2 separate regions of the Homo sapiens genome follow, and region 2 is linked to region 1. Evidence: fine-mapped expression QTL. A gene starts in region 1. The other region holds a variant in brackets. All regions are shown on one strand. Distances are from middle to middle. Region 1 holds the start of SAMD14 (sterile alpha motif domain containing 14). Region 2 overlaps LOC124904025 (a long non-coding RNA gene).

The links. PIP is the estimated chance that this variant, and not a neighbour inherited with it, causes the effect. A credible set is the group of variants that fine-mapping cannot tell apart.
Region 2: its variant is the best candidate, but not a certain one, in a credible set for the expression of SAMD14 in whole blood (INTERVAL, PIP 0.85).

Annotation. Positions count from the first base shown.
Region 1 is chr17:50,129,150-50,131,649 of GRCh38, forward strand. SAMD14 (sterile alpha motif domain containing 14) reads right to left here and starts at 1,011. Exons shown (of 10, transcript NM_001257359.2): 1 at 368-1,011. RefSeq lists silencers at 727-786, 1,027-1,106.
Region 2 is chr17:50,154,479-50,156,978 of GRCh38, forward strand. The region is part of intron 1 of LOC124904025 (a long non-coding RNA gene); the gene reads left to right. Among named protein-coding and RNA genes, the nearest start is that of PPP1R9B, 5.1 kb to the left of the region's middle. RefSeq lists a cis regulatory region at 1-118. The variant A/G (reference allele first, on the strand shown) is at 1,068.

The sequences.
Region 1 (2,500 bases):
ACAGGGCACCTACTCCACTCTCAGAGCCCTTCTCCCCAGTCAGAGCCCGGTGGCTAGTTTCTCTCCAAACCATCAGCACAACTCCCCGCCGGGCAAGAAAGAGTTAAGCCCTCTCCCCCTCCCCCCACACCAGCTTTTTATTAATTTCTCCGGGCGTCGGGCGGGAGGGAGGGGATTAGGGCCATAAATCCTATCTCCGCCCCCTCCCCTGACAGCCCGGCACCCCAGCCCCGTGCGGTCCCCCTAGGGATAGGGGAAGAAAGGCCCTTGTCGCTTAGCCCTGCCCAACCCCACTCAGGGTCCCACCGCGGGCCCGAGTGGCCCTAGCCCCAGTTCCCGGTCCACCCCAGGGCGCCCGGCCCCTCACCTCCGGCATCGGTCATCTTCAGCGTCTGGCGCCCCGGGAACCCCTCAGGCCCATGGTGCTCGAGGCGGGGGCCGGGCAGGAGAGGGGTGGGGGGACCGTCACCCCGGCCGCGGGGGGCTCCGGGCGGGCTCGAGCCGCTCCATCCCGGGGGTGGGGGTGAGGTCGGCGGGAAGGGTCCCAGAGCCGGGGGAGATGGAGGGCGGGGGATGTGGGGAGAGGGAACAGGTTCGCTGGAAGCAGGAGGCGCGGGCGGGGCTGGACCAGGAGACCTGACGGGAGGATGCTCCGTGTGTGTGTGCGTGTGCGTGTGCGTGTGTGTGTGTGTGACAGAGAGAGAGAGAGAGAGAAGAGCGAAGAGCGAGCGCCACCTCCCTCCCCGCCCCTGCCGCCCGCCAGGCCTGGCCGGACGCGGGGCCCCCGCCTGGCAGGGCCGATTCGCGCGGCGTCGCGTCGGCAGGGGTCCGCGGGGGTCTCCGGGGAAGGGGCGTCGGGGTGGGGGGCGCGTGGCGGAGAAGCCGGGCGCCCAGGAGACAAAGAGCGGGAGGGAGCGAGGGGGCGGGGGCGGGGGAGGGCGGCGGGGAGGAGGCGGCTGGGGCCGGGGAGCGGAGTTGCAGCTACTTCTCTGCCCGCGGGAGACGCGGCGCACCGGAGTCTGCGCGGGTGGGAGCGGCTCCGGGGCGGTCCCGCCACGGGACCCACGGGGCTTCCGCCTCCTCTGCCGGGTCCATCAGGGCTCCCGATTAGTTCATTCATTCAACAAACGTCCGCCGAGCAGCCGGGGCGCCGAGGCTGGAGGGGACAGCGGTGAACAGAACCCCCGCCCCCTAACTGCGCTCAAGGCCAGTGGGCCAGTCGGGGGCTCAGACGAGTGGGGAGGCCCTCACGAGCCTGGGCGCCATGGGCCCAGCTAACAGAGGGCACTTCTTGCCGGAAGGGAGAGCGCACCCCTGGCCCGGCCTGGGTCCAGGCGGCCGCGGCGGGAGCTGGGCTGGGGGATTCCCAGAGGATGTGATGTGTTGGCTACAACTGCGGGCCAGGGTAGGGAAGTGCCAGGGGGTGTTGGGGGTGGGAGGGCAAGAGGGGAAGATAAATTGAAGCTGGGGAGGTGCAGGGGGCTTGCACTTTATTCTACCAGCCGCCCACCCCGCCGCCCACACACACACACACACACACACACACACGCGCGCGCGCGCACACACACAAAATTAAGAGGAGGGAGGGGCTCAGGTGTGCATTTAGGAAGCACCCTTGGCTCCCCTGGAGACAGGGTTACAGAGGGCACTCTGAAGGCAGGGAGACCCGCTGGAGGCTATTGAGGGCCGGTGGCAGTGGGCATAAAGATTACAGATTAAGCTGAGAGCCCTTCAGGATGCAGGCCTGAAGAAGCTGACACCGAAGAAGCTGACAGGATTTGGGGACCTGCTGGACTAGGAGGTGAGGGAGGAGGGGTCTAGGATGGCTGTGGACCTTGGCTTGAGGCAGGAAGCCCTGGAGCAGGTGGGGGTGGGGACGGATGAGATCAGACTTGGACCCAGTGCGCTGATGGTAGTGGCAGGCCAGCCAGGGAGGCAATGTAGGGATCCACAACCAGCTACCGCACGTCACAGCTTGGCAGGTGCCAGGCGCTCTCAGATCATCTATTGTCACCCTCACAATAAACCCACAAGGTGGGTGTTTCCATTACCCACTGCCTCAGAGAAAACAGAGACTTAGAAGAAGGAAAGTGCTTTGCTCAAGAGCAAGTGGTGAAAGGCCAGGCGCAGTGGCTCACGACTGTAATCCCAGCACTTTGGGAGGCCAAGGTGGGTGGATTACATGAGGTCAGGAGTTCGAGACCAGCCTGGCCAACATGGTGAAACCCTTGTCTCTACTAAAAATACAAAAATTAGTCAGGCATGGTGGCGCTACTCTGGAGGCTGAGGCATGAGAATTGCTTGAACCTGGGAGGTGGAGGTTGGAGTGAGCTGAGATTGTGCCACTGCCTTTCAGCCTGGCCAACAGAGTGAAACTCAAATCTCAAAAAAAAAAAAAAAAAAAAAAAAAAAAAAAAAAAAAAAAGGCAAGTGGTGAAGCTGGATCAGGGGTCTAGAGTCAGAGGAGAGGTGTGGAGTCTATAGGACAGAGTTCCCTGAT
Region 2 (2,500 bases), 25 kb after region 1:
TCGTGTCCCCTCCCAAAGCCTGTTTCCTCAAAAAGCTTAGCTTGAGTGTCTGAGTGTTTCCTGAGCATAGATAACCCTAGGTGTCCCTCACTTTTGTGCATGCAGCACAGGCCTTGAAGCCAGGCCATCTCTGTTAGAATCTCCAACCTCCCACTCCCCAGCTAAGGGGCTTCAACAAATTCCTTCATCTATAAGATGAAGATAATATACCAACTTCATAGAGTTTTTGTGAGGAATAAATGGGTCCTCAATGCATAAGGCACTAAAAGGGGGCTCAGAGTGTTGGCTGTTACTGATTGCAGGGTATCCAAGCACATGTGGGGGTGTGTGCCTGCATGCACATGTGGGCAGGTGTGGCTGAGAATGAAACTCGGTGTTTGCATCTCTCTGTGTGTCTTCACAGGACTTTGGGGCTCTCATTTTCTTTAAGGTTCAATATGTGAAATTCTGAAATATAAACACCCCTTGCTTACAGCTTCTCCAAATCTTTGGGGGTCATTCTTGGGATGACCTCTCTTCTCTACTTCCCAAAGGGTTTTTCACTCCTGCCTGTGGGTGCCTCAAGCCCCTCATTGTCCCTGCAGGGAGAGGGGTCCCTTAGGGTCCTCTCACAGCTAGGAGACTGCCTTGCTGCTGGTTCCCTCTGCTGTACCCAGTTTCTTTCTATCACTCTCCACACTTGCTCCAGTGGCTCTTGGAAAGTTCAGATACATCTTGGAGACTAGGGAGGGAGACTTGGTAGGAGGAGTCAGGGTGTGTGTGTGTGTTGGGGGGCGGGGGAAGGGGTTGGACAGAGGAAAGATTTCTCCAAATCATCAGTTGCTTTAAAAGAAAGCCTATATTTAGCTGGGCTTAGAGGGCCTGTAAATATGTATTTTGCAAGGCAGACAGCCCGTAGCTGTGGGAGCTCCAGAGATATGCAGGGAGGTCAAAGAAAAAAAAAATAATCAGAAAGATTAGGCAATATATTTTGTCATCAGCAGATTCAAAAAACTCTACTGCCTGCTCTCACTGCTAATAATACACATTTCTGTGTTTCGATGGTTCCTATGTTTCATCTGCCCTCC[A/G]GATCTTGTGCAGTGGGTGCCTGAGAAGGAGACTGGCTCTCGGAGACACCTTTTCCTGCCAGCCTTTGCCTCATCTGCCCTGGGTCAGAGGAAACAGCATCCCACCATCTCCATCCCCACTAGCCCGCCAGGCTCTGCCTGGCGCAGGTACAGCCTCCAGAACACCAGCTCTCAGGTCTCCCACGCTCAGTGCCCAGCACGCAGGTGGCTTTGGGGTGAGGTGTGGGGTGAGAAATCCTGCACTTCAGGGCAGTTCTACTTCAGAGACCTCTTTTTTCCTACAAAAATGTTCATTAATTGTTTTTTTACTTTTACTTTGAAAAGTTTCTTTAACAGTAAGAGGCCTTCAAAGAATCATGTGACAGAATTTACAAATGCTAGCAATGTGTCATTTTTGCTTTGGGTTTTTACATATAAAAGAGAATATTTGGCCGGCCCGGTGACTCACACCACCCAGTGCCATAATCCCAGCACTTTGGAAGGCCGAGGAGGGCGGATCACGAGGTCAGGAGATCGAGACCATCCTGGCTAACAGTGAAACCCTGTCTCTACTAAAAATACACAAAAAAATTAGCTGGGCATGGTGGCAGGTGCCTGTAGTCCCAGCTACTCGGGAGGCTGAGGCAGGAGAATGGCGAGAACCCGGCAGGCGGAGCTTGCAGTGAGCCGAGATCGTGCCATTGCACTACAGCCTGGGCAACAAGAGCAAAACTCCGTCTCAAAAAAAAGTATATATATATATTTGAGCCCCCTTTTCTTTCTCCCCAGTTCCATTGTCCACCTCCCCCAACACTCACACATTTGGAATACAGCTTTTCTAGACCATAATTTTTGCATTACTATATTTTAATTGTAGCAGACTAGAGATATAAAATTCACCATTTTGGCCAGGCGCAGTGGCTCACGTCTGTAATCCCAGCACTTTGGGAGGCCGAGGCGGGCAGATCACGAGGTCAGGAGATCAAGACCATCCTGGCTGACACGGTGAAACCCCATCTCTACTAAAAATACAAGAAAAATTAGCCGGGCATGGTGGCGGGCGCCTGTAGTCCCAGCTACTCGGGAGGCTGAGGCAGGAGAATGGCTTGAACCTGGGAGGTGGAGCTTGCAGTGAGCTGAGATCGCGCCACTGCACTCCAGTCTGGGCGACAGAGCGAGACTCTGTCTCAAAAATAAACAAATAAATAAATAAAATAAAATTCACCATTCAGTGTGTACAGGTCACTGGCATTAAGTACAATCACCTTGTTGTGGAGCCATCACCACCATCTATCTCTAGAACTTACTTTCATCTTCCAGAGCTAAAACTCCATACCCATATAAGTCCCCATTCCCCTCTTCTGCCTCCCAGGTTCAAGCAATTCTTCTGCCTCAGCCTCCTGAGTAGCTAGTATTACAGGCCCGCACCACCATGCCAGGCTAATTTTTGTATT